Homo sapiens: one gene and its partners. The protein of the gene in region 3 purifies or fractionates together with the protein of the main gene of each other region. This does not show direct contact. Each region holds a gene or a part of one and is shown on either strand. Other genes may lie near its edges.

What was found.
Region 1: the proteins of MAPK14 (region 3) and CCDC8 purify together in Homo sapiens (affinity purification with mass spectrometry; 5 studies listed by BioGRID and IntAct, with this or other methods). This does not show direct contact.
Region 2: the proteins of MAPK14 (region 3) and RHBDF1 purify together in Homo sapiens (affinity purification with mass spectrometry; 4 studies listed by BioGRID and IntAct, with this or other methods). This does not show direct contact.
Region 4: the proteins of MAPK14 (region 3) and OBSL1 purify together in Homo sapiens (affinity purification with mass spectrometry; 8 studies listed by BioGRID and IntAct, with this or other methods). This does not show direct contact.

What each region holds. Positions count from the first base shown.
Region 1 is NC_000019.10:46,410,565-46,417,693, forward strand, and holds the start of CCDC8 (coiled-coil domain-containing protein 8), read right to left. Parts: upstream 3,001-7,129; 5' UTR 2,247-3,000; coding exon 630-2,246; 3' UTR 1-629. UniProt on the Homo sapiens protein: Core component of the 3M complex, a complex required to regulate microtubule dynamics and genome integrity. It is unclear how the 3M complex regulates microtubules, it could act by controlling the level of a microtubule stabilizer.
Region 2 is NC_000016.10:62,631-69,652, reverse strand, and holds part of RHBDF1 (inactive rhomboid protein 1), read left to right. Parts: intron 1-4,613; coding exon of another isoform or gene 4,614-4,637; coding exon 4,638-4,754; coding exon of another isoform or gene 4,755-4,823; coding exon 4,824-4,954; intron 4,955-5,852; coding exon 5,853-6,066; intron 6,067-6,470; coding exon 6,471-6,680; intron 6,681-6,755; coding exon 6,756-6,878; intron 6,879-6,957; coding exon 6,958-7,022. UniProt on the Homo sapiens protein: Regulates ADAM17 protease, a sheddase of the epidermal growth factor (EGF) receptor ligands and TNF, thereby plays a role in sleep, cell survival, proliferation, migration and inflammation. Does not exhibit any protease activity on its own.
Region 3 is NC_000006.12:36,072,808-36,079,829, reverse strand, and holds part of MAPK14 (mitogen-activated protein kinase 14), read right to left. Parts: intron 6,958-7,022; coding exon 6,846-6,957; intron 6,140-6,845; coding exon 6,110-6,139; intron 5,782-6,109; coding exon 5,734-5,781; intron 3,983-5,733; coding exon 3,868-3,982; intron 3,294-3,867; coding exon 3,222-3,293; intron 1,996-3,221; exon of another isoform or gene 1,966-1,995; intron 1-1,965. UniProt on the Homo sapiens protein: Serine/threonine kinase which acts as an essential component of the MAP kinase signal transduction pathway.
Region 4 is NC_000002.12:219,568,535-219,575,750, forward strand, and holds the start of OBSL1 (obscurin-like protein 1 isoform 1 precursor), read right to left. Parts: upstream 3,006-7,216; 5' UTR 2,699-3,005; coding exon 1,687-2,698; intron 1-1,686. Other genes in the region: INHA (inhibin alpha chain preproprotein), read left to right, coding at 3,841-4,108, 6,160-6,992. UniProt on the Homo sapiens protein: Core component of the 3M complex, a complex required to regulate microtubule dynamics and genome integrity. It is unclear how the 3M complex regulates microtubules, it could act by controlling the level of a microtubule stabilizer.

The DNA of each region.
Region 1 (7,129 bases), on a different chromosome or scaffold from region 3:
CCCCAGAGCATTCGTCAGTTGTCAAGTCCAAAGCTAAGAAATCAGTTCATAAATGTTTTTTGATTTGCATGTTGGCTCAACTCTTTTTAAGTCCAAGGAGGCAGTCCACATTAAGTGTGCAGGCAAAAAAGAGATGGAAAAAGGAGTCAGTTTCTCCCCTGCCCTCCCTCTCTCCCTTTATCAAGCTGAGCACCTTGAGTTGCATTTGAGGAAATGAAAACTATAGGTGACGCAACCCCATTGTGTCGAATTCTTTCTTTACATTTTTTGGGTTGCTACAAGGAATCAGTATTTTTTTTTTTTAATCAGATGGTGTGTGTGGTGGCTCACATCTGTAATCCCAGCATTTTGGGAGGCCGAGGCAGGAGGATCACTTGAGGCCAGAAGTTTGAGGCTGCAGTGAGTTATGATCATGCCACTGCACTCCAGCCTGGGCAACAGAGTGAGACCCTGTCTCTAAAAAATTTAAAAAAAAATCAAAGCATGAACAAAACTTTAACAAGAGAATAAAGAGGGTTGTTAGGTGGAGACGTGGCCAGCACTCCACCTCCACTTTGAAGTTCAGAGGCAGAGCATCTCTCCCTCCCACACTTGGAGGGAGGGCCCGTGGGCTGTCTCTAGCCCTCACCTCACAGCTGGTCTTCTTGCTCTCCCTGCTCAGCTTCTGCTCTGGCCTCGGCCCTCAGCACCCTGAGGTTCCTGGCCTCTCCTGCCCTGGGGACTCTCTTGGGCAGGGTTGGCAACCGGGGAGTGTGCCAGAAGGCTCTCCGGCGCTTGCAAAACCACGAAAAGCGTCCAGGGGTCTGGAACCTCACTGTCTTGACCTGTTTCCGGGCCCTGGCTCCTGGAGCTGTTCCTGTGGTCCCTTGGGCAGCTGAGACTTCAGCTTCCTGGATACCTGGGGCCCCTGCCCTCTGATTATGTGCAGCCTCTGCCCTCTGGCCAGCCCGGGCCTGTGCCCTCTGATTATCTGCACCCTGGACAGCTGGGGCCCTTTCCCTCTGGTCATGTACGGCCTCTTCCCTTTGATTATCTGTAACCTCTGACCCCTGGTCAGCTGGGGCCTCCGCCCTCTGATTATCTGCAGCCTCTTCCCTGTGGTTATCTGTGCCCTGTGACCTCTGGTCAGCTGGGGCCTCTGCCCTCTGATTATCTGCAGCCTCTTCCCTCTGGTTATCTGCAGCCTCTGCCCCCTCCTCAGCTGGGGCCCCTGCCCTCTGATTATCTGCAGCCTCTTCCCTCTGATTATCTGCAGCCTCTGCCCCCTGGTCAGCTGGGGCCCCTGCCCTCTGATTACCTGCAGCCCCTTCCCGCTGGTCAGCTATGGCCTCTTCCCTTTGACTATCTGCAGCCTCTCCCCCCTGATCAGCCTCGATGTCTGCCCCCTGACCTGTGGGTGCTGTCTGCTCCTTCCTGCGGCGCCGAAAGGAGGCCCAGTTGATCTTGGGCCTCCATCGCCTAGGGGAAGCCTGGGGCACACAAACATCTCCCGCGTTTCCCAAGCGATCCCCCGGGCTGGTGCCCTCTGGCGCCGATGATACCCCTGCGCTCTCCACTGCGGTGGAGGCCAGCCGGGCCTCGCCCACCCCGGGGCCCGCCCTCGGCGCCCAACCCTTCACCCTCCGCTTCAGCTTCCCCCAGGACACCTGGCTGACATACTCCCGCCACCTGTCCGCTTTGGACAGCTGAGGCCCCAGGTTGTCCTCAAACATGGGCACTGGCAGGTTGACGCGGCGGCGGGCAGGCGGCGCGCTGGGCTGCTTCTCCTGTCGCCGGAGGAAGGCCTCGACCAGTTCCTCATCATCCTCACTCTCCAGGTCGCTTCCCAGGAACTTGCTGCCCAGGTAGCTGACGGGCATTTTGCGCACCTTCTTGCCCCGCCGCGGGCCCTGGCGGCTCTTGTCTCTGGAGGTCTCGAAGTCGCTGAACTCGCTGTCGCTGGCGTTGCTGCTGTCGTACGTGCCCACGACCAGCCGGGGCGGAGGAGTCACCATCTGCTGCACTCTCCTCCTCACTCGGGGCTCCTTGGGCTTTTTGGGGGGCTGGGGCGGGTGCGGGGTGCTCTTCTCCATGATGCGGGCCACGTCCTCCAGGGTGCGGCCCTCTTCTTCCAGGAACTGGGTCAGCCGCTCCCGAAATTCTGCTTCCTTGGTGGCGGGCTTAGAGATGACTCTCCAGACGCCCCCAGCCAGCCTGACCTCCCGGGGGATGAGCAAATAGTCGACGTCCTCCCCGATCTGCAGCATCCCCACCGTGGAGTCCTCCTCCTTGCGGAACACCTTGCCGATCTTCTTAAATGTCCCCACGGGCTTTAGGGCTTCCACGAGGACGTCCAAATCCACATCTTTGCAGACATCGGGGACGCTCCAAAGAATGAGGCAGTCGGGGGACGGCAGGAAGCCCCAGGGGAACCAGCCCCCCACGTGGCTTTTCTCGAGAGTCTTTAAGATCTCCAGGGTGATATCTGGGGTGAGGGGGCAATGAGCCCCAACAAACTACTGTAGCCCTTAGTCTTGAGGGAGGGACTGGATGGGGGGAGTTCCAGCAACGCTGACCGGAGAGTCTCACCTCCCTAGCCAGGGACGAGCCAAACGCCTCCAATCTCTTCGCCTGCAACAAGTACAGTCTTGACCAAGTCCGGCTCCCCCACCAAGGACTTGGGGGAATCAATTTCCAGGATGCCTACGTGAGCCGGGGGCGAGGTCAGTCCCAAGGCTCAAGGCCCACTCCAAGCTGGAAACGTGGTGTCCCAGCTCCAAGTTGGGGCGCGCGGGCTGCCAGCGACTCTTCCTGCCCCAGGCCCCAGGGACGCGGCTGGAACTTGGGACAGGACTTCGCAGACAAAGACGGTCCAGTCGAAGCTATTCAATATGGCCGAGGCGCTGGGAGGCCCCAGCCCGGGCCTCCAGTAGGGTCCCCCGCCCCCAGGCAGGCCGCCACCCAGCTCCAGGCTGACCTTGACGCGCCGCAGCCTGCCAGCCCGCGCGCTTAGAGCTCTGCACCGTGGAGCGCGCGGGCAGGAAGTTCCTCCTCGCCCTCCGCCAGAATGAGGCCCACCTTCCCCCGTCTCATCTTACACTCCCAGACTCTGGAAGACTGACAGGGGGGCTGTCCACTCCCTTCGGGGCGGCCTCCTTCCCCTCCCCCACAGGGGTGTGGCCGCGCCCCGGGCCTAGCTGGGCCCATTGCTTCCCAGCGAAGCGGCAGTGGCCCACGTCAGCACCTTTCCTGAAAGGCAGCGGTTCCCAAACCTGCCATCCGAAATGTGCAAGTTTCCAGCCAAGTCCGGGAGGTGGGTGTGCTAGTGGATTCTACTTTTTGAGAGCCACTGGCACCACAGATTAGCATTTTAAATTCACGCGACTATCGGTACCCGTACACCTATATGCGTGGGTAGAGAAATGGGTACCTGACTGCAACAGTCCCACTGTGGCGCTTGGCAGGTCAGGGCTCAATACATATTTTTGAGGGGATGAATAAACCCAAATGTTCATGGCCAGGCGCGGTGGCTCATGCCTGTAATGCCAGCACTTTGGGAGGCCCAGGTGGGTGGAACACTTGAGGCCAGGAGTTCGAGACCAGCCTGCCCAACATGGTGAAACCCTCGTCTCTACCCCGGGTGTGGTGGTGCGCGTGCGTAGTCCCAAGCTACGCGAGAGGCTGAGGCAGGAGAATGGCGTGAACCTGGGAGGTGGAGGTTGCAGAGATCGCGCCACTGCACTCCGGCCTGCGCAACAGAGGGAGACTGTCTCAAAAAAACAAAAGTGCAAAAAAACCCCTACAAATAAACAACAACAAAAAACCCTAAAAGTTCACGAGTAGAGACTGCCTCTATTTTATGGTAGTATCTTACAGTGAAATATTTTGCAACTTCGAAAAAAGAATGAGATGGCTAAGGATAGGCACGGTTTATGAGGCGCTTCCTATGTAGTAGGCACCATTCCCAGTGCTTTCTATGAATGAACTCAGGAAATCCTTGCTATAACAGGAGACTGGTAGCATGAGTACAATTCCCATTAGACAGCTGAGGAAACTGAGGCCCAAGGACATAAAACCACACTCTCAAGGTCACAGCCATGGGGAGTGGTTGAGTTTGGATTTGAATCCAGAATAGTCTGCCTTTTGTGTCGACCAAAGAGTCAAGATGGCCAGGCGCGGTGGCTCACGCCTGTAATCCCAGCCCTTTGGGAGGCTGAGGCGGGCAGATCACGAGGTCAGGAGATCAAGACAAGACCATCCTGGCTAACGCGGTGAAACCCTGTCTCTACTAAAAATGCAAAAAAATTAGCCGCGCGTGGTGGTACGTGCCTGTAGTCCCAGCTACTCGGGAGGCTGAGGCAGAAGAATCTCTTGAACCCGGGAGGCGGAGGTTGCAGTGAGCCGCGATCGCACCACTGCACTCCAGCCTGGACGACAGAGCAAGACTCCGTCTCAAAAAAAAAAAAAGAAAGAAAGAAAGAAAAAAAAGAATCAAGATGTGAACCAATGCTAGTCGCATTCGGCCGGGAGCTCGGTTCTTGAGACGCGAGTCTACCGAAGCTCCCGCCAGTTGAGAGGCGAGTCTGCCGAAGCTCCCGGCCGAAAAAGCCAAATCCTTCCTTAACCCAGTGTCTGAGGGGTTTTGTCCGTGGCTCCTCCTGCTACAGGACATGCGACTAGCATTGGTCCACATCTTTGGAACCAGGCATCCAGAGACATGTTGAATAGGCCTCGTTGTTAGGAACCCTCAGAGGTACATGGTAAGGCCAGTGCCATCAATCATCTTTTTACAGACGGTGAAACTGAGGCTGGTCTGAAGTTGCACAGCTCTGAGTGGTGGATCTAATATAATATTAGAACCAGATCTTGGGCACTAGCATTTAAAACACTAGCTGACGCTAAAGACACAGCTAATCCCCTTCTCCTAAATGTGTTGCACCATTTAACCACTTAGCAGCCACAATACTTGCAGCCACTCTTGCCTGGATGTGTACAAAGCCCCCTCACTGGGCTTCCCGCCTCCCCATCACTGCTTGCAATCCAGGCCCCATCCAGAAGCTGGGGGCATCTTTTAAAAACTTAGGTCCGATCTGTCTCTACTCTTTTGAAAATTCTCCATCTCAGGCTGGGCGCCGTGGCTCACGCCTTTAATCCAGCACTTTGGGAGGCTGAGGCGGGCGGATCACCTGAGGTCCGGAGTTTGAGACCAGCCTGGTCAACATGGCAAAACCCCATCTCTACTAAAAAATACAAAAATTGCCGGGCGCGGTGGCTCACGCTTGTAATCCCAGCATTTTGGGAGGCTGAAGCGGGTGGATCACCTGAGGTCAGAAGTTTGAGACCAGCCTGGCCAACATGGTGAAACCCCGCCTCTACTAAAACTACAAAACTAGCCTGTCTTGGTGGCGCATGCCTGTAATCCCAGCTACTCCGGAGGCTCAGGCAGGAGAATCGTTTGAATCCGGGATTCAGAGGTTGCAGTGAGCTGAGACCGTGCCATTGCACTCCAGCCTGGGCAACAAGAGCGAAACTCCGTCTCAAAAACAAACAAACAAAAAAAAGAAACGAACAAAAATATAAGAATTAGCCGGGCATGGTGACACATGCCTGTAATCCCAGCTACTGGGGAGGCTGAGGCAGAAGAATCGCTTGAACTGGGAGGCGGAGGTTGCAGTGAGCCAAGATCGCGCCACTGCCCTCCACCTTGGGCGACAGAGCGAGACTCCGTCTCAAATAAATAAATAAATGTGATCTTATTTAACTCATAAAGGAACCAGGCAAATTTTTAAAGAGGGAACGGAGGAAAAAGAGACGGGCCAGAGGGAAAGAAAAGATGTGGGGGCTTAGGGGACGTTAAGGTCTCAGCGAGCGGCCTGTTCACAATTACCGGCTTATTCAGGTTGTTTTTCTCTTGCAGAGCCAGGTCGTTGGGCTTCGCTGGATTTTTCTCCTCTTTCTCCCTGGCTCAGTCCCAGCCGCCGCGCTCAGCCCCCGGGCCTCCCGCGGCCCCGCCCCTCGCCTCCCCCTTCGCACAGTTTGTGGCCTCCGCAGTCCGGCGGTCTCCATGGCAACCACGGGACGCGCTCCTCCGCGCGGATCAAAACTAAGCGGGTGGGGCGGAGGCGGAGGCGAGGCTGCAGGGAGATGGTGGGGGTGGGGGCGCCACGGAGGACGAGGGCAGGAGCTCCTCTTTTCTGCCCCTGGTGCCTCCCTTAGGCCTCATCCCCAAAGCCAGCTTCCCTGAAAAGCTGTTTGTAGAAACCAAAAAATGAAAAATCCTAAGGACACCTAGGTTTCAGGAATGCTGATTAAAGAATCGCAAGTCTGAGGGCTCATGACAGTGCCTTCCAAGTGGTGACCTCGCAGATGAGACGTTTGGGTTTTGTAGTCATAAAAGGGCTTTCGTTTTGTTTGTTTGTTTTGTTTTTTGTTTGTTTTTCTTTTTTTATTTGGTGGGGGAGCAGGGAGCGGCGCAAGGAGGATAATCTAAGAAATGAAAATCCCAAATGTTCCATATTTTTGCAAAAATCGTCAACCTCCGGCCGGGGGCGGTGACTCATGCCTGTAATCCCAGCACTTTGGGAAGCCAAGGCAGGAGGATCGCTTGAGCCCAGGAATTGGAGACCAGCCTGGGCAACATAGCGAGACTCCGGTCTCCACAAAAAATTTAAAAATTAGCCGAATATTATGGTGTGCGCCTGTGGTCTGAGCTACTCGGGAGACTGAGGTGGGCCTATCGCTTGAGCCCGGGAGGTCAGGGCTGCAGGAAGCGGAGATCGCCCATCTGCACGCCAGCCTGGGCAACAGAGCGAGACTCCATCTCAAAAAAAAAAAAAATTGCCAGCCCCTGAACGGTTCAGCTGTGGGTGTTTTTAATTGCACAGATCTCTGGCAGGTGAGACCCTTCTCCAGCCATCACAGAATAAAATAATAAAAACGAGAACTGTAGCCTCACTTTTGCATTTGTTTAAAATAAATGGAAAGTTGGAAAAGAATGGGGAAGAGAAACAAAACACGGCTGAAATCCCTCTACCCAGCTACATTTTGTTGCCATTTAAAAAAAAAATGGGACACGCGGGCCAGGGGCAGTGGCTCAAGCTTGTAATCCAAGCAATTTGGGAGGCCTACGCGGGCGATCGCCTGAAGTCAG
Region 2 (7,022 bases), on a different chromosome or scaffold from region 3:
GACTTTCCCTTCATTAATCCAGAAGACCTGGAGGCTGGGCTGCCAGACAGCTGGTGACCCCCTTCTCAAGGGAGATCTAGGATTGAGCTTCAGATTAGGAGTCAAACAGAAGACTGAGGGTCAGAGAGCAGCGTGTGGGTGGGGATGCTGGAGGAGCCACATCCCCCTGGGATGAGGCTCATGTGAGCTGAGGACACGTCTGGGAAGGTGTCCCGGGGTGAGGCCCCTTGCTCCAGCTGACCTCGGCAGCAGGCAGTTCCTTGGGCGGAGCAGAGCCCAGGCTTGATGGTTCTGGCCCCGGGGTTGGCAGTCAACTCCGCCGCCAGTTGTCCCTGCCAGCATGGTCCTGTGAGTGTGCAGGGCAGGCCTGAGTACAGAGGTGGTTGCTGCTCACACCTGAGGATGCAGCTCTCCACTGGCTGTGGCCACTGTCTATGCCTGGACTGGCCAGAGCTTCTCTCTAGTCTCTTCCCAAACTCGACACCTTTGGAGGGTTCTGTCCCCAGGTGTCCCCAGGGCTGCCCTCTTGTTGCATATGCTCTAGGGTCCTTTCACCCCCCAGCTCCTGCCCCTCAGAGAGTGCCAAGTACCCACAGGCTACACCACCCTGTGATGGAGTCAGCCGCTGCTACTGTGCCAGGCACTGCTGTGACCCCTGATTTCCAGATGGGAAAGCTGAGGCTTGCTTAGGGTTGTAGGTGGTGGAGACACATGGGGCCCAAGCATCAGCCTGGGCTGTCCCCAGTGGCCTCCCTGCATCGGCTCCTGCTTTCTGGCTCTCCCTGCACCTGTGCACGCGGCCAGCTTGATGGGTGCCCAGACATCCCCAGAGCAGAAACCTGAGTTAACAGGACTCTCCACCATCCCCCACTCAGCCCTTCCACACCAGGCTCTGCAGGCAGCCAGAGGGGACGTCAGCATGCATGGCGCCAGTGGCTCCCTTGACCCTCCTCGTCCCTCAGCCTCATCGAGAGTCCTGCCCGCAGCCCCCCCAGCTGGTCCTGGGATGCACTGTGGCTTTGGGTGTCTCCTGATGGGGCTGGGCCTGGGCTGGCAGCTGTGAGGCTGCTGCAGTGACTCAGATGCTGTGTGACCCCAGGCAGTGAGGCCTTCCGTGGGCCACGGTTTCCCCATACACTGAGGGGTCAGCGGGGTGGGGGAGACACTGTTTGGATCCCCCCGAGGGGCTTTCTGGGAACAAGAGCCCACTGTGCGCCTGGGGAAGGCCTGGACACTGAGCCACTGTCTCTGGGAGGGCAATGTGCCGCTCCCTGGCCAGACTCTTTGTCCAGCCTGGGCCTGCCCCTCCCCACGCCTACTCCGGCTCTTCCTTTGGAATCCCACCCACTTGAGGCCCAGATGGGGATCTAGGCACACAGGGGTGGGGCAGACCAGAACACCCAGCACTGCCCACCCGCAGGACCTATAACTGTCGGTTCTCAGGTCCCCTCCTGCCTGCACTCCTAGCAGTGGGGGTTTTTGTGGAGGTGGGAACCCCAGGAGACCTGGATGTAGAGGCATGGCGGCTGGTGCCTCCTTCATGAGCTGAGCACTCTGCTGTCTCCTGGGGCCGACTGTGGTCCCCGGCTGAGACAGTCCTGGGGAGGTTCCTGGGGCCGACTGTGGTCCCCGGCTGAGACAGTCCTGGGGAGGTTCCTGGGGCCGGCTGTGGTCCCCGGCCGAAACAGTCCTGGGGAGGTCAGGTTCCCCGTACACGCTCACAGCTCTCGGCTCTTCTCACCCCCTGACTGTTCCTGCTTGCATCCGCTCATGCCAGGCAGCTCGTCTTCCCAGACCCAGCTGAGAGGTCATCTTGAGGAATCCTCCGTTACCCCAGATTAGGGACCCCGATGGCCTGCGTTGTTCAGTGATCAGTGCCTACCCAGCGGTGGCTTCAGAGCAGGCCAGTCCTGAGCACTGTGGAGGCAGCAGTGACAGGACAGTGGCCCATACATATGTGAATGAACTCCTGCCTTGTGCTGTGCCCAGGGATCCAGGCCAAGGACCGCCTTTGGGTAGTAGGGCAGCCTGAGGCTGCAGGTCCTCCCACACAGGGGAGGGTGGGCAGAGCGCATTTGCAGGGCTCTGAGATGGGAGGGAGTCAGGTGTGAGGAGCAGCGGAGAGCAGGAGCCAGGGAAGTCATGGATGTGTGTGAGCCCATCAGCTGGCAACGGTCTCTGTTGGCAAAGGTCACTCACACTCCTGAGTGAAGAACCAGCTGGATGTCGCCTAGTGCTGCTGGGCACAGGTGGAGACTCCTGGAGAGGCTGGCCCCCTGGATTCAGCCTGCTGATTCCTGGCAGTGGCCCCAGTCTCTACGCTGGGCCCTGCTCCTCTCTGGCCCCCATAATGGCCTCACTAAGAGCATTCGTCCATTTTCTGGGTGAGAACATGCTGGGAGTGTACTCAGAATGCTGTCCCAGCACTGTGGGTTCCGGAAGCCCCTTGCCGAGCACCACCTGCCTTCCCAACGTGTCTGATGCTGTCTGAAATTCCACCCTTAGTGTCTGAGACTCAGAGGTGGCCCCTCCTGGCTATTCCTTACCAGCAGGGTGATGGTACTGCAGTCCATATACCCTGTGGAGGGAGGGCTGGGGGACGATGAGGAAGTCTAGCTGTGACCCCTTCACGCTGTGGCTGGGCCGTATCCAGGACACGCAGGTCTGGGCTGGGTTTGGGTCACGAGTCAGATGCAGAGGGGTCTCCTGGTGCAGTTCCCAGAGGGACCTTGACCCACCCAGTTCTCAGTTAGGATGCCTTTCTGTCCGACCCTGTTGCACTCTGGGGCTCTGCATGGGTGAGGGGCCCTGGAGGGATTTCCCAGTGATGTGGAGTTGCTGCCCTTGGCTCGTGCCCCTGATTCCAGGCCAAGTATGGGCCAGGGACAGGAACTCAGCCTTAGGGGGCCATGTGGATGGAATGATCCCTGGGCACCATGCCTGGGGAGTGCCCCAAAGCTTTGCCCCCCAGCTCTCACCTGGGACCTGAAGTGCACAGTCAGCTCAGATAAGGGGCTGGAGCGTGAGGGGTGGGGTAAGAGCCAGCAGAAGGCATCCCTGAAGTACCCCCTCCCACCTGTGTCTGTTCTGGTCCCTGTAGGACCAGTAGGGGCTGTGAGCAGCATTCCCAGCCTTTCCCTGGTAGTACAGGGTCGGAAGGAGCCGTGAGCTCTGTCCCAGGCCTGTCCCTGGCTGGCATAAGACCATTAGGAGCTGTGAGCAGCACCCTGGGCTGTCTCTAATTGTGCTGCCCTCCATATATGACCGTGAGCGAGGCAAGCCTGTGTTTCCTGGCCTCAGTTTCCCTATTTGTACAGCATAGGTGGGGCTTTCCTCCAAGCAGTTGGGAGGGAGACCTGTGAGTGAAAGCCATTTCTGGGGCCTTGGTGGGTGGGTTGCCGACCCAGCGGCTCCGAGCCTGTCAGAGGCTGCAGCTCTTTAAAGAGGCTGAGGAATTTGGGGTTTTCTGTCCAAAATTGCTTCAGCTCTGGCCAGCCCCCCACTATCTGTCTCGTGTCATGCTCAGGGGCCCTTCTCAATCTGGGTCTCCACTGGAATCGCCGTGTGGTCCCCCTGGGTTGGGGACAGCTGCAGGTCTGCCAGGAAGGTGTAAGGGGGAAATGGAGTCGTAGTCATATGGCCAGGCAGTGGTGGCCAGAATCGAACCCTGGCCTATCTGCTCTGGGGCCTTCCGTGGGGCCCTGGCCCCGTGCCTGGCATGTCATGGTAGAGCCAAGCTTGCAATGCCCCGCAGCCCCGGCACCGAGCCGCCTCACTGCTGTTTCTGGGCGCGTGGCGTCACCTGGTGGTCACTACGGTGTCTGCGCCCGGGTGGTTTCTGGAAAGTCATTTGTGCCCAGGAGCCTGGGGCCACTAGCTGCTGCTGTGTCACCCTCTTTCCTGAATGTGGTGACTCTATGCACTGGACCGATCACACACCTCTTGCAGGCTGTCATGTGCATAGTGGGCCCTTTGTCCCTGGAGTGGAAGTCTGGGTGGGTAAGAGGGTGAGGCCTGGTAAGACAGGTGTGAGATTTGCCCTGGGCACAGACTAGGGTGAGCCTCCTGTCACTGAGACCTCAGATCGGCTGTCCCCTGTGTGTGGAAACCCCTGCAACCCCAGCTGTGCTCACTCCCCTCCTTCAAGCCTTTGCTCAGCTGTTACTTCATGGGGAGGCCTCACTGCCTCCTGTCAAGCAACCCTAGTTTGCTTCCCCCGCTCCCATCATACTTAGCATCTTTTAACCAGTACATTCACTCATTTAAAAATATTGTCTAGACTGTAAGCTCCAGGAGGGCAGGGATTTTGTCTCGTTTCTCCACCAATGTGCCTCAAGCACCTAGAGCAGTATCCTGACCATAGTGTGTGCTCAGATAGTTGTCCCATGGACTTATGTTGTCTGAGGACCTAGGCTGTGCCCAGCACTGTCTGCTGGGATGAACAAGGCAGGCACAGAGAAAGTCGGTGCTGAGCACACAGTAGTGCTCTGACAGTGGGGGACATGAGCACCACGGTTGGGCTCATCACTGCTTCTCCCTCCTCCCGGGTCTGGGTGCAATGAATCTTCAGATGTCAGCTTTGTCATTATTGAATAACACACCATGCCCCGCAGGCCTGCCTTGCTCTGCCAGGAACCATGAGTGAGGCCCGCAGGGACAGCACGAGCAGCCTGCAGCGCAAGAAGCCACCCTGGCTAAAGCTGGACATTCCCTCTGCGGTGCCCCTGACGGCAGAAGAGCCCAGCTTCCTGCAGGTAGGCCCTGGCCTGCAGGGACTGTGGGTGCCCCCTGTCCAGTACCCTCACCATGACCCTGTTGCCCAGCCCCTGAGGCGACAGGCTTTCCTGAGGAGTGTGAGTATGCCAGCCGAGACAGCCCACATCTCTTCACCCCACCATGAGCTCCGGCGGCCGGTGCTGCAACGCCAGACGTCCATCACACAGACCATCCGCAGGTACCAACACCGCCCAGCTGCTCCATGGGGTGGGAGCTGGGGGCTGGTGGGGCAGAGGCAGGTACACAGAGGATGGAAATGAGAACAAGGGCCCTCTTGTTTCAGCTTCCTCCTCCATCTCGGTCCCCACCATCCCCTTGCCCTCCTCCTGTTCTGGATACTGACCGCTCTCACCCCACTACCCTGCTCCACTCCCTTCTCTTCAGCACTCACTCTCTCCTTCTCTGTCTCCACCGCCCGGATGCTCTTGCCTCTTAGCAGCCGACAAGTACGCTTCGGGCGTGTCCACACTCTGCCCCTCTTGGGTCCCCGGGCTGCCCGCAGGGCCTTCCCACAGCGCCAGTCTCTCTCTTGGTCCCTGCTCAGGTATCTCATACAGGTCATGAGTGTGTTGGTGTTTTCTGGCATGTGCTTGGCATGTGACCTCTTGGGAGCTGCCAGTGTGGTTGGCATTCCCTGGGGCTCCTAACGGCAGGTGCTGGCAGTGTTTTTGTTTGCATGTCCAAGTGCTGTGGACAGCCTGCCTGGGCCCGTAAGCACCTGCTGTCTGAGCTCTGTGGTGTCCTGGGGCCAAGCTCTCTCGGGTTGAGCTCTCAGCTCCTTCTCTGGACTCAGTGCCTCCCCTCAACTGCCCCTCAGGGATGGTGGGGTGAGGGCCTCTATGAAGCACTCAACCGGGCAAGGCCAGCTGCGGTCTAGTGGAAACTTGGAGTTGGCTAACAGTTCAGGGGGTGGCTGGAACCCACTCATCCTCTTATTAGACCTTGCCCACTCAGACCCTGGTCCCTGGAGTGACTACAGGCCTGGGGGCAGCATGCTGCCCCGGAGGAGGGCCTTTGAAGTCCCCTGCCTGGGAGGGGCGATCTGGCCGCCCCTTGCTGAGTCCCTGCCATGCCAGGGGGACCGCCGACTGGTTTGGAGTGAGCAAGGACAGTGACAGCACCCAGAAATGGCAGCGCAAGAGCATCCGTCACTGCAGCCAGCGCTACGGGAAGCTGAAGCCCCAGGTCCTCCGGGAGCTGGACCTGCCCAGCCAGGACAACGTGTCGCTGACCAGCACCGAGACGCCACCCCCACTCTACGTGGGGCCATGCCAGCTGGGCATGCAGAAGGTATGCCTGCCTGTTGCTGCCTCCTGCAGGCCCCTCCTTCCGCTCTCAGGGGCTGGGGCTGCGGACACAGCCAGCCTGAGCAGAAGGGACTCTCTGGGAGCTCACAGTCTGGAAGGGCAGTCAGACAGCCTGCTCGTGAAGGCACCTGAAACAGTCTCTGGGAAGGGGTACCTTGGGATGGGGACATGGTCTTGGGATTGCACCAGGGGGCCAGTGTCTGGATGGGAGAGCATTCCAGGCAGGACCTCTAGGTGCTGTGGGGTGGGAGTGGTGGCCATAGAGCTGTCCAGGGGCCCGTGAGGAGTCAGGAGCAGCAGTCACGCTGTCTTTGCAAGGCCTCTGTGCCTCTGGGTGAGCTAGGAGCCCCCATGGTCCTGACTCCAGCATCTCCTCCCCTCCTCCAGATCATAGACCCCCTGGCCCGTGGCCGTGCCTTCCGTGTGGCAGATGACACTGCGGAAGGCCTGAGTGCCCCACACACTCCCGTCACGCCGGGTGCTGCCTCCCTCTGCTCCTTCTCCAGCTCCCGCTCAGGTTTCCACCGGCTCCCGCGGCGGCGCAAGCGAGAGTCGGTGGCCAAGATGAGCTTCCGGGCGGCCGCAGCGCTGATGAAAGTGGGTGCAGGGGCCAAAGGCGGGGTTGGGGGCCGACCCAGCAGCCGGGTCTCATGCTCACTTCCCCGTCCCCAGGGCCGCTCCGTTAGGGATGGCACCTTTCGCCGGGCACAGCGTCGAAGCTTCACTCCAGCTAGCTTTCTGGAGGAGGACACAACTGATTTCCCCGATGAGCTGGACACATCCTTCTTTGCCCGGGTAAGAAGTGCCCGGGGTGTCCCCCCACCCCACGTTCCCTTCCTGCCTGTGTCCACCCTGACCTCATGTGTTTGCTCAGGAAGGTATCCTCCATGAAGAGCTGTCCACATACCCGGATGAAGTTTTCGAGTCCCCATCGGAGGC
Region 3 (7,022 bases):
CTGCATTTCAGTTGCTTAATAATTAGCCACAGGCAGCTGGTGCCTATAACCACCACATTGGATAGCACAGATATAAAACATTTGCAATACCACAAAAGTTCTAGTACACAGTTCTTACTTACAAGCCCAAACCACCAATTCCAAATGCAAAATGATCAATAAATAAGGAAAACAGGGAGAAAACTGGACACTCAAACAATGAGTACCTTCTAGAGCAAGCTTTTCCAACCCAGGGCCTGCGGGCTGCACGTGGCCCAGGGCTTTGGATGCAGCCCATCACAAATTTGTAAACTTTCTGAAAACATTACGAGATTTTTTTTTTGCAATTTTTTTTAAGTTCATCGGCTATCATTAGTGTATTTTATGTGTGGCCCAGGACATTTCTTCTTCCAATGTGGCCCAGGGAAGCCAGAAGATTGGACACCCCTGTTCTAGAGGTTGCATTTAAATATCATAAATAAGTGACAGGTGCATGTCTTTCAGGCTGAAGGAAGAGGGTATGAGGCCAATACATTCTCCAAAGGTTTTTTAAAGAGGAGTTCTGCAAATTAGAAGAACAGCGAAGAACAGAATATTGGAAAAGAAATTGTGGCCTATGTGACAGGTAGCTTTGGATTATATTCTCTGGGTCTTGGTTTCCCCATCTATTAAAAACAGGGGATTCAACTAGATGTTTTCTAATTAACTTTCTGATCTCATTGGTACTTTTCAAAAAAAATGAATAGAGATTACTAACATCTTCAAGACCAGCCAAGATTAAACTAAAATTCAACTGGGTTAAACTCTAGTTGTACTCAACACTAGCTGCAAACTAGAAGACTGTGCTTTGACCCATGACAACAAAATGGAGTCTTTGGGGTGGTCCCCAGGCATCTAGAGTTTTTAAAAGCTCTGCAAAGTGATTCTGACACACTATGAGGGTTAAGAACCACTATGCTGGAACACAAGTGACCGTATAGTTCAGGCAGGAAAAGATAATGGGAAACATTTTCCTCTTGTCAGGCAATCAAAGCTGTATCTACACAGATGGCAACTTACAAGAGAAAGGTTAAGTATATTACAAATAAAAATCCTTTGAATTCGACTTTTACAATCCAGGAGAGAACATCTGTCTGAAAAAGAGCCAAGTAGAATAAAATAAATAACTAAAACCAAAATTTTGAAATGAATTCTCATGTATTAAAAAATGAATCCCTTATTAAAAAGTTTAAACACTAGGTTGTTTATCTAAAGCTCACAGAAGAAAAAGACCTAAGCACAAAGGGAAGATTTCCTACAGGCAGAAAGTTAGCATTTAAAAGGGTCAGGGAATAGACAGGTGTCTGTGAGACAGGACCACAAAGGTACAAGACTCACACTGCTTCGAAAACTTTCTAACACTAGTCTGCCAAGGAGTTCCATCCTTTCCTACCTATCACAGAATTAAAAACAAAACAAAACATTAATGATTCATAGGTAGACAATTAAGTGAGAAGGTGAAGGGGTAATCTGTTTTGCAAGGCCATTACTGAACATGATGGCTAACATTTACTGGCAGGCTCGTCTCAGTACTTTCCAGTTATTTTCTGGCTGAATTCTTACGACAACCTTGTGAGTATGTATGATTATTATCATTTTACGGTTAAGGAAACTGAGAGAAATAGAGGTTAGGAAACTTACTCAAAGTTACATAGCTGGAAATAAAAGAGCTAAGATCTAAATCCAGGAAATCTGGCTCCAGAGCATGTGCTTAACCTGTATGTTATACTGCCTTTCCCTCTCTGCCACCTTGTGTGTCTACACCGGCATGGAGGTCTGTGACTGACTAAATGGTAGCTGGAGATACAGACACAAGAAGAGGAAGGGGAGCAGGGAACAGAGAATAGCATCAGGACAGCAGCTACTCTAGAGGACAAAGCAAGGATGGGACTCTGAGATATGTACCTGAGGAAAGGGGGAAGTATGAATTTTCCCTAATTCTCTTACCTTGGACTGTAATATATATATACCAAATTTCTGAGAAACAGATATAAGGTGAATGAAACAAAGGACAAAGGAGAAACACCAGGTATTAAACTAATTTAAAATCCAGAGGTAGGGAGTAATAAGGTAAGCTAAATACAGGGAGACTGAACTCTGTTATCAATCCTAATATTCAGAGAGAAAGAAACAGCTTTACCTGAGAAATAGAGGTTTTTTCAGTTCATAATGAAAGTACATTCTCTCTAGCAGAAGATAGTTAGAACACGTGGGTAGATATCATGAACATCATAGCCATTACAGAAGTATATCCCAAACTGTAAGCAAGTGAATTGACATTCTGGTTTATAAACTCAATTAGTTTATTTAGGTAAGGGACTAAAATGGCTTTTAGATCTCTAGGCATAATAGATCAGAGGTAGCATGTCTAATATTGCCTAACCAAAACCACCTGAAGGCTAGTTAACTCAATTCTATTAAAAAAAGAAAAAATCCCCAAAACTAATTCTAGACATATATTTTAACAATCTTTCTCACCTAAACATCTTCCATAAGTAGAACTGATGAGAGTTCCAACAGACCACATTTTTCATGACATTAATACTAAACCATGAAACAAGCATACCGCAGATAGGAAAGGAGCTAAAATAAAGGGGCTATAATAAACCATAAACTAGACAGTAAGTCTTGGAGTAAATTAGGGTTTGGCTGCAATCTGGGAAAAAGTTGTGCTGGAAAAACAAAAGTACATTACATGGTAAGCTTTTCACTTCTTGCTTTTACTATTTGTTGTCAAACAACAAACATAACAAGTAAGCAGTATATCACTGCAGGTACCAAACATAGCCCTTTTAATACATAAACATAACAGCAAGATGCCCTTCATTTATAAATGGGCATCTTGTGCTCATTAAGTGTTTATACAAGAAGACTAAAACTGTCACTGGGATCTGGAGTTTCTCATGAGTATGCTCAGGTCTCAGAACTGCTGTGGGATGATTAATAAGGGACTGTTGCAAAAAGAAGACAGACTTGATGGGTTTTTCAACTTATGAGGAATTTTTCCAACTCACAAAAGTAAACTGAAGCCTCTTTCTTGGCAAGGCAAGCTACTCAGTTTGAAGAAAGACCTCATAATGCATTATCTAGACTATAAAAGCAAAATACTGAGAGTCTTCCCTAGAGATAAGTAAAAGGAGTATACACCCATGGACACTGGAATACAGATAAGAAACAAGAATCCAAAACTTTTTAAAGGATACGGTCTGTACCAGGAAACAATGTTCTTCCAGTCAACAGCTCGGCCATTATGCATCCCACTGACCAAATATCAACTGGCAAAATTAAAAAGAAGTAAAAGTATATGCAATGTCACTGTTACAATTCTTGGCAACAAATGAAACCGTAACTAGGGGTGAAATATTCAAATTACTATTTAAGACATCTGAGGCTCAACAATCATACTCATTTTTACAGAAATAAATAGCTTACTAAGATCTTCACCTGACTAAAGGGCTGTTCAAAGGTGGGGTAAGTCAAAACACACTTAAGAGAAATAAGCTGTTTAAAAAGGGGCAAGTTTCTTATTAGTAGAATGGTAGATTCTTCCAAGTAACATTGAGGGGTTAAAATTATGGACTAATTGTCTTTAGGTATAAGTACTCAGAGAATATATTCAAAATCTAAATAAATAAAAACCCAATTGCTAAATCACAAGGTTTAAAAGCTGTGTATAAAACCCCACTTCCCCATCTGAGGAAGTGAAATATTTTTACTTGCAGGCTTTAAAAGGATCACTGAGGGAAGAAAAGACATTTCTTCCCACTCCCACCATCTCTATTTCTGAGAATCCCAAATGCATCCAACATGGAATTAAATAAGGCCCTAAATAACCAAGGCGAGTAATACCTGTCTGGTTGTAATGCATCCAGTTCAGCATGATCTCAGGAGCCCTGTACCACCTAGTGGCCACGTAGCCTGTCATTTCATCATCTGTGTGCCGAGCCAGTCCAAAATCCAGAATCTAAAGGGCAGAAGAGGAACAGACAAACTGCTAAGACTTAGAAACAGGCAGGGAAAAAAAAACAAAACAACAACAACAAACAAACCTCTGTTGCCTTATTAAAAAGGAGAACAAAATAGCACTTTCATAAAGAGATTTCCTGGTCCATACTTAGAATGTATGGTAAATATACAGCAAGAACTTAAAATGAAATTACAAAAAGCAAAACAAAAATGTCACTCCCAGGTATTTAATCAAGTGCAATGAGAACTTACGTCCATACAAAGGTTTGCACATAAACATTCACAGTTGCTTTACACAGCCTCAAACTCAAGCAAATGTCCATCAGCAGGTGGATAGATTTAAAAATTCTGTTATGTTCATAAAACAAAATACTATTACCAATAAAAAGGAAGAAACCACTGACACACACAACAATACCGAATCATTACACCAAGCAAAGGCCAGACACACAAAAATACACACTATATGATTCCATTTACATGAAACTCCAGAAAAGATAAACCTAATCTATAGTGTTAGAAGCAGATCCATAGTTGCCTGGAGCCAGAGTTAGGGGTGGAGGGGTAGGGATTGACTAGGAAGGGACACAATAAACTTTTTTTTTTTTTTTTTTTTTTTTGAGACGGAGTCTTGCTCTGTTGCCCAGGCTGGGGTGCAGTGGCACTATCTCGGCGCACTGCAAGCTCTGCCTCCCAGGTTCACGCCATTCTCCTGCCTCAGCCTCTCAAGTAGCTGGGACTCCAGGTGCCCGCCACCATGCCCAACTAAATTTTTGTATTTTTAGTGGAGATGAGGTTTCACCGTGTTGGCCAAGATGGTCTCTATCTCCTGACCTCATAATCCACCCGCCTTGGCCTCCCAAAGTGCTGGGATTACAGGCATGAGCCACCACGCCTGGCCATAAACTTTTTAAAGTAATCCAAATGTTCTTGGCTGGGAGCAATGGCTCACACCTGCAATCCCAGCACTTTGAGAGGCCGAGGCAGGTGGATCACGAGGTCAGGAGATCGACACCATCCTAGCCAACATGGTGAAATCCCATCTCTACTAAAAATACAAAAATTAGCCGGGTGTGATGGCGTGCACCTGTAGTCCCAGCTACTCGGGAGGCTGAGGCAGGAGAATCGCTTGAACCCGGGAGGCAGAGGTTGCAGTGAGCCAAGATCACACCACTGCACTCTAGACTGGGCAACAGAGTGAGACTGCATCCCAAAAAAAAGGAAAAAAAAAGAAATGGTCTTTATCATAAATGTGAGTTAAGTGGATATATAATTTTGCCAAATGAAATGGTGCATTCTAATGTACAGACATTTTTTCAAGTTAAAAAAATGAAATGGAACAAAAGTTCTAGAGCTGCTTGCTATTTAGAAACAATTAATTCACTTATTTTTTATTTGAATTATTTTGAGTGAGTGGGTTTCTGCCATTTCTCCTCTTAGAAATGTATTTAATCTAGTTATCACCTCTTTGGGCCTACTTACTTGATATTTGACTATTATCCTCCTTTATTATGACTAATATATCAAATTTATAATTTAACTTTATGTTAAAATAAAAACAAGTGATGCCACTTTCAATGTCACTTAGCTTACTCAGAAATGGTTTAAATTTCAAAGTCTGATAATAAAAATAATACGAATTTCAGATAGTCATGGCTCACAAAGCTACTCCCTAAGAAAGTCTGCCTGCTTAGTCAAACATATAATCTCAAAGTAAAGCAAACAATGAATACTGTCTCTTCATTTTACCTTCAGCTCACAGTCTTCATTCACAGCTAGATTACTAGGTTTTAGGTCCTAGGAAGCAAATACAGGGAAGACAGGATCAACTTTATGATGCATGATCAATTCTCCCCCTACAGGTAATAATGAGGATCCAGACATAAAAGACTTCATCCAGCTATCAAAAGACAATCTCCATCCTACAGTCAATATCCAGTCCAAGTTAGCCTTACATAGAAAAAAACTACACATCTTCTTTCTTTAATCAGCTTAAACCTACAGTAAAGTTGCAATCAATCAACATTTCAATGGCTAAAGTTTAGATTAGGATCTTGGCTAAATGCCATTCTTCCACTCTCACCCCACTTCCCCAAAATAATGTAATCAAAGTCACAATACATACCCTGTGAATTATGTCAGCTGAATGTATATACTGCAAAAGAGAAAAAAGTCAAAGTTACCTCCAACCTTCTATTGTCATATTATATAACATATTTGCTGCACATTTTCATGAATCAGTAAGAACTGCTAGTGTTAATAGTAAGATTAGAAATCAGCATAAGTAACTATCAGTATTGTGTACATTTACCATTACTATAATTTCCACAGCCATTGACTCCACTCAGTTGAGCTTTTAATCTATTTTCTGGTTGGCACTCTGGAGCTCAATAAGGACTCAAAGCAGCTAAATATCAAAGATGGGTTTAATTTTAAAACACTGTTTATCTGCCCCTCCAACAAATAAATTAGTCTTTCTTGAGGATTTTTTGAAAATCTCAACATTACGCTGACCAGATATTAGATTACATCAATAAATTATTGTTTAGATGTAAGAATGAAGAGTCCTTATCTTTCAGATATGCAAACTGAAGTATCTATGGATGGTATTATATAATGTCTAGACTTGCTTTAAAATAATCCAGGGCTTGGGAAATACAAAAGAAACATGATTGGCCATATGTCGGTAACTGTTGTCACTGAGTGAACATGGCAGTTTACTGTACTATATGACCTTTACCTGTGATTTTATGTGTTTGAATTTTCCATTAGAAAAGTTGTTTACTTGTTTGTTTAAGCCCTAAAAGGAGGGGAGAAAGGGAGAATTCATTTTAAAAAATTATTACTTGTATTATCTGTACCTTTAGACCTCGGAGAATTTGGTAGATAAGGAACTGAACATGGTCATCTGTAAGCTTCTGACATTTCACAATGTTGTTCAGATCTGCCCCCATGAGATGGGTCACCAGATACCTAGAAATTAGTGAAAAGTTACATAACAATCTAGAACCCCTAAGAAAGTTCTTATCTTCAGAAGA
Region 4 (7,216 bases), on a different chromosome or scaffold from region 3:
AGCAAGTCCATTTCAATGCTTCTGGGCCTCAGTCTCCTTACTTGTAAAATGGGGAAAGGGAGAGAAGGGGTTGGACCAGATTGATGATTTCCAAACTGTTCCCTGGGGTCCTCCAGGCCCTAGATTGGTGATTTCCAAACTGTTCCCTGGCTCCCCCCGCCCCAGTCATTTCACATATTCTGCAAGGGTCTGAGTAGAATTTAAAATATTTTAACTCTTTTTTTTTTTGAGATGGAGTCTCGCTCTGTTGCCCAGGCTGGAGTGCAGTCGCGCAATCTCGGCTCACTGCAACCTCCACCTCCTGGGTTCAAGCAATTCTGGTGCCTCAGCCTCTCAAGTAGAGCTGGGATTACAGGCAGGCGCCACCACGCCTGGCTAATGATTTTGTATTTTTAGTAGAGATGGGGTTTTGCCATGTTGGCCAGGCTGTTCTCGAACTCCTGACCTCAAATGATCCGCCCACCTTAGTCTCCCAAAGTGCTGGGATTACAGGGTGAGCCACTGTGCCTAGCTATTTTAACCCTTTTCAAAAGTGTATTTCAAAAAAAAAAAAAGAAAAGAAAAGAAAACAGGATGTTGGAAATCAGAGGATTAACTAGGGCTGCTGGAGAAGCAAGTTTTTGTGTGCGTGTGTGTATGCAACTCGGGGAAGCTCCTCTAGCCTTCCCTCCGGGCTTTTCTTTCCTGATGGAGGTCCAGATCAGCACCAACCTGATGAATCTGTGAGCATTGAACTGTAACAGTGAGGCCACCACCGCAGCCTGGGGGCAACATGCTTGACTGCATGCTAGGAAGGACTCAGGAGAATTTACCAACTTTTTTTCCTCTAAGAGAAAAAACTGGACAATAACTAGTGAAGGTGTACTCTTTTGCGTTGTGATGAAATCCTATTATGGGGAGCGTTACCTTCTGGTGAGTTTGGGGTGTGCTTTTTTTTCCTTTGGAATTTTCTGTTTATGAGAATGTAACCATTTATTGGATATTGTTGGTGATTCAACTTTGAAATATAAACCTTCTCTCCTTCACCTTCCTCTTCTTGCAAACGTGGGGAGCAGTTTAATCAAAGAATAGTAAAAACACGCAGGACATTTGTCCTCCCTCAAGTCTAGCTTTCCACTGAATCACTTGTTTCTCAAGGTGACAGATGCAGCCAGGCCGTCCCCACAGGGTTCAGAGCCTGGTCTCATGAATGCAGCCTTTAATTCAAATTCCTGTATTCAATAAAATAGCCTCCTTATTCTCACTGATGGTTTAGAAGTACCTGTTATATACGTAGACTCAGCAATTTACGCCCATAAACTACTCCTTTATCTGTCTCATATATTGGGGCTCTGGTTGTGAATTCAGTGGGGGAAGGAGGAGTAAAATAACAAAGACGTTGAAAACCACTAGGGAAGAAGAGTTCTAGGGCCCTCCGGATTTGTACATCAATCACTCCTTAGTGGTGTTCCACCATCTGCCTCGGAATCATTTAAGGAGTTTGCTAAGAAGTTCCTGAGTACCCTGGAGACCTACTAAATCCGAATCCCTGGGGAGTGAGAGGCGGGCGGGTTTGGTATTTTAATATTCCCGCGGACCACCTCTCCTCCAGTCTTGGGGGCAGCGCTGGGCACCGAGGAGGGCTGGAGTTCGGAGGGCCTCGGAGGACACTCGAGGCCCCTCCCTAGGTCCCGGGCTCCGCCGTACCTTTCACGTGCAGCTGCACGGCACTGAGCGTCTGGCCCGCCGAGTTGCGCGCGGCGCAGACGTAGAGCCCACGATCCTTGGCCTGGCAGTAAAGCACCTTGAGCACGAAGCCGCCGTCGCGGTCGCGGTACATGAGGCGGCGGCGGTCCGGGAGCAGCGGGCGGCCCTCCCAGTGCCATTCGATCTCGGGCTCGGGCTTGCCCATCACGTAGCAGCGGAACTTGGCGTGCTTGCCCTCGTTCACCCAGAAGGTCTTAGGCGCGCACTTGAGCGGCTCCACCACCGGCGCGGGGGCCTCGTCGGGGTCCGCGGGCGGGCTCTCGGGGGGCTGGTGCACCTGGAGCAGCGCCCCCGCCTGCGCGTGGCCGTGCGCGTTGCGGGCGTGGCACACGTAGACGCCGGAATCCGGCAGCCGAGCCGCCAGGATGCGCAGTGCCAGGCTCGCGCCGGGGCCGTCCTCGGCGCGGCCCGGCTGGAGCGCGAAGTGGCTGCTGTCCCACACTTCGTCCAGGGCCATCCCGTCCTTCTCCCAGTACAGTGTGGGCTCGGGGAGGCCCCCCGCCCGGCACGTCAGCACCACCTCCGCCCCCCGCAGCACCCACTGGGATCGAGGCCCCGTGAGGAAGACCGGGGCGCCCTCCCCGGACCCCGGCGATGGCAGCGGGCGCTCGGCGGGCTGCAGCTCGGGGTCGGAGGCCGGCGGCTCCAGCACGGTGACGGCGGCCGCCGCGTAGGCCTCGCCGGCCGCGTTGCGGGCGCGGCACACGTAGACCCCCGCGTCGGTGGGCAGTGCGGCGGTCAGCAGCAGGCCGTGCTCCGCGCCGTCCGCCGGGAAGCTCAGGCGTTCCGAGGCCGCCAGCTGCTGCCCGCCCTTCTCCCACACCACTACAGGCGGCGGCTCCCCCAGGACCACGCACTTGAGCTCGGCCTCGGCGCCACTTACCACCCGCACAGGCCGCGGGAAGCGCAGGAAGCACGGGGGGCTCCCCTGATCCCCCGAGCTCGCCTTCATCGCGGCGGCCGACCGCCTGCAGCGGCGAACGGTGGGGGGGCAGGGGGGGGTGCGGAGGGCGAGCCGAGGCCCGGGGCGGCGGGGTCGGGGCGCGGCTGGGGACTGGGCGCGGGGACCCGCGGAGCTCTCCCGGGCCTCCCGCTCCCGGCTCGCCTCCTTACCCTCGGCCCCGAGCTGCAGCTCTGCGGCGGCGGCGGCGGCGATTCCCGGGCCCGAAGCCTGGCGCTCAGGGGGCAGTCCTTCCTGTTTGCCTCTCCAGCGAGTGGCCCCGCAGCCTCCCCTGCCCGCTGCCTGGCTTCCTGCTCTTAGGAGCCTCTCTTCCCAGCCCCCTCCCACAGCTTGGGCCTCTTCCCCCTCCTCCCTCCCACCTCCAGCCGCCAGGTCCCCAGCCGCCCGCCAGGCTTGGGCCTGAGTGGCAGAGGCGCCTGCAGCTGCCAATCCCAAAAATATTCTCTGATGACACAGCTGGAGGACAAGAGCCCAGACTGGCTCCACTGGTCTAAGTATAGAGCAGGCAGGACCACCTGCCCCCGGCCCTAGCCCCGGTTCTAGCCCCGGTTCCAGCCCTGCCCCCAAGGGCTGGCCGGCCAGCAGCTGCTTATTGAAAGGGGCCCCAGAAGGTCTGAGGGGTGATGCACTTTGTCTCCCTGACAAATAACACTTTCTGGGGCTGGCCGGCTACAGCTCCCAGGCTCCTGTCCCACCTGATGTCACCTCTGGATGTGTCTGTGTGTGTGTGTGTGAGAGAGTGTGTGTGTGTGAGAATTTGTGTGTGTGTGAGTGTGTGTGTGAGTGTGTGTGTGAGTGTGTGTGTGTGTAGGGAGAAGGTGTTGTATGTTTGCATGTGTGAGTCAGGTCGCTTGAGGCGAAATCCTTCCCAGCCCCTCCCCCACATCCCTGGCGGGAGTGGGAGATAAGGCTCATGGCCACAGACATCTGCGTCAGAGATAGGAGGTCTCAATGCCACGGGCAGGGGCAACTCGGACTGTGGGGCGTGGAAAGGACTGGGGAAGACTGGATGAGAAGGGTAGAAGAGGGTGGGTGTGGGATGGGGAGGGGAGAGTGGAAAGGCCCTGGGCAGACCCTGGCAGAAGGGGCACGGGGCAGGGTGTGAGTTCCCCACTAGCAGGGCCAGGTGAGCTATGGTGCTGCACCTACTGCTCTTCTTGCTGCTGACCCCACAGGGTGGGCACAGCTGCCAGGGGCTGGAGCTGGCCCGGGAACTTGTTCTGGCCAAGGTGAGGGCCCTGTTCTTGGATGCCTTGGGGCCCCCCGCGGTGACCAGGGAAGGTGGGGACCCTGGAGTCAGGCGGCTGCCCCGAAGACATGCCCTGGGGGGCTTCACACACAGGGGCTCTGAGCCCGAGGAAGAGGAGGATGTCTCCCAAGCCATCCTTTTCCCAGCCACAGGTAACGAGGGTGGGGGAACCGGCAGGATGACTTTGAGAAAAAGCAAGGCACAGCATGGGTTTGCAGGCCAGGCGGACCTGGGTTTGAATCCTAGTCCTGCTACTCAGTTGCTTTGCAGCAATAGGCCAGTTACTAAACTTCCTTATGCTTCTGTCTCCCCATCTGTAAAATGGGCTAATGCCCACCTCTCAGGATTAAGTGAGAGGCTGTACCTAGAGTGCATGGCAGGTGGGAGGCATTTGGGAAGTATGCGCTGGGAGACCGGGGGTCTCTAAAGATGGAGATATTTGGGCTTGAGCCCCTTCCTGCCACCTTTCCTCCTATCTCTGCCTCTGCTCGCTGCTCCAAACCCTGTTTCTTTACTCCCAGGTAGCTGACACTGAGAAGCTATCAGAGATACAGGCAAAAGATTAGTTGGGAAACTTTTCTGGAAAACTAGTCTATCTTCTCTTGAGTTCCTGTCTCAACATATATGTGCCCCCTTGTTCCACTGACTGAATGGATAAGCCCTCCTGTGGGTGGGCTTTCTTGTCATCTGGTCCACCTTTCTCTTAGAGAGGACCCCTGCCTCCCTCACTTCAGTCCGTTCGCAGCACAGTGGGGAGAAGGATGGCTTTGGGATCAGGCAAAATCCAAGCCTGGCCACTTAGTCGTTGAACGTCATTTCACCTCTCTAAGCCTCAGTTTCCTTATCTGCAAAATGGACCAATTGTGACTAGATAATGAGAGAAGCCATGTAACAGTATAGTTCCAATTGCCAGTCCATGAACGAGTGCTGCTCCAGGATGATTAGTATAGTCTATGAGTGTGTCAGTGTGAGGATGCTAACTACACATTCTTGAAAGGACTGCCCTCTGTTCTGAGTTACAGCCCTCCTCCTTCTCTTCCCCCTCTTCCTTGTTCTCCATTTTCTTCCCTTTCCCACTTGCCTTTCCCTCCTTCTTCTTTTTTTTTTTTTTTTGGTGTAAACCTGTCTTTTAAAAATGGAATTATTTTAAAGAATTTATCCTACAATATTCCTGACATGCCAAAGATATAAAGAGTAATATAGGCCGGGCGCGGTGGCTCACGTCTGTACTCCCAGCACTTTGGGAGGCCAAGGCAGGAGGATCACAAGGTCAAGAGATCGAGACTATCCTGGCTAACATGGTGAACCCCGTCTCTACTAAAAATACAAAAAATTAGCCAGGCATGGTGGCACCAGCTACTCGGGAAGCTGAGGCAGGAGAATTGCTTGAACGTGGGAGGCGGAGCGGAAGGCAGAGGTTGCAGTGAGCCGAGATGGCGCCACTGCACTCCAGCCTGGGCGACAGAGCTAGACTCCATCTCAAAAAAAAAAAAAAAATGGTAATATGGCTGGGTGTGATGGCTCACGCCTATAATCCCAGCACTTTGGAAGGTGAAGGCAGGCAGATTGCTTGAGCTCAGGAGTTTGAGATCAGCCTGGGCAACATAGCGAGACCCTGTCTCTACAAAACCCACAAAAGTTAGCTAGGTGTGGTAGCACACGCCTGTGGTCTCAGTTACTCAGGAGGCTGAGGTGGGAGGATTGCTTGAGCCCAGGAGGTAGACGCTGCAGTGAGCCGTGATCATGCCACTGCACTCCAGCCTGGGTGACACAGTAAGACTCTGTCTCAAAAAAAAAAAAAAAAAAGAATATAACAACCATCCATGTAGACACCATTCAGGATACTGTTTCACACTATCTGGTGAGTAAGCATTGAAGTCTAATACAAAGTCTTAGTGCTGGTGAAGTGGAGAGAGGGCCTCTTACACACTGCTGATGGGCATGTTAATTGGTAAAACCACTTCAGAGAGAAGTTGGCAATGTCTTCTATTTTTTTAAGTCCCTTCATGATGAAATTAAAAAATGGGAAGCCTACAGAAGCTCTCCCAAAACTCAGGAGAGTCCCCACGTCCCGGAGGGCGTGGAGCAGAGTGCAGCCCATCATTGGCTCATGACTGGTGGCCACATCCCTCCTGCTGAAGAGGAGGGGTGCCAGGTCCTGCCAGTCAGGGCTGCCCTCTCCCTTTTCTTCTGTCTCCTGCAGATGCCAGCTGTGAGGACAAGTCAGCTGCCAGAGGGCTGGCCCAGGAGGCTGAGGAGGGCCTCTTCAGATACATGTTCCGGCCATCCCAGCATACACGCAGCCGCCAGGTGACTTCAGCCCAGCTGTGGTTCCACACCGGGCTGGACAGGCAGGGCACAGCAGCCTCCAATAGCTCTGAGCCCCTGCTAGGCCTGCTGGCACTGTCACCGGGAGGACCCGTGGCTGTGCCCATGTCTTTGGGCCATGCTCCCCCTCACTGGGCCGTGCTGCACCTGGCCACCTCTGCTCTCTCTCTGCTGACCCACCCCGTCCTGGTGCTGCTGCTGCGCTGTCCCCTCTGTACCTGCTCAGCCCGGCCTGAGGCCACGCCCTTCCTGGTGGCCCACACTCGGACCAGACCACCCAGTGGAGGGGAGAGAGCCCGACGCTCAACTCCCCTGATGTCCTGGCCTTGGTCTCCCTCTGCTCTGCGCCTGCTGCAGAGGCCTCCGGAGGAACCGGCTGCCCATGCCAACTGCCACAGAGTAGCACTGAACATCTCCTTCCAGGAGCTGGGCTGGGAACGGTGGATCGTGTACCCTCCCAGTTTCATCTTCCACTACTGTCATGGTGGTTGTGGGCTGCACATCCCACCAAACCTGTCCCTTCCAGTCCCTGGGGCTCCCCCTACCCCAGCCCAGCCCTACTCCTTGCTGCCAGGGGCCCAGCCCTGCTGTGCTGCTCTCCCAGGGACCATGAGGCCCCTACATGTCCGCACCACCTCGGATGGAGGTTACTCTTTCAAGTATGAGACAGTGCCCAACCTTCTCACGCAGCACTGTGCTTGTATCTAAGGGTGGGGGGTCTTCCTTCTTAATCCCATGGCTGGTGGCCACGCCCCCACCATCATCAGCTGGGAGGAAAGGCAGAGTTGGGAAATAGATGGCTCCCACTCCTCCCTCCTTTCACTTCTCTGCCTATGGGCTACCCTCCCCACCCCACTTCTATCTCAATAAAGAACACAGTGCATATGACTTGACATATGTTCTCCAGCTTCTCTGATATGGAGTTGGGCCCC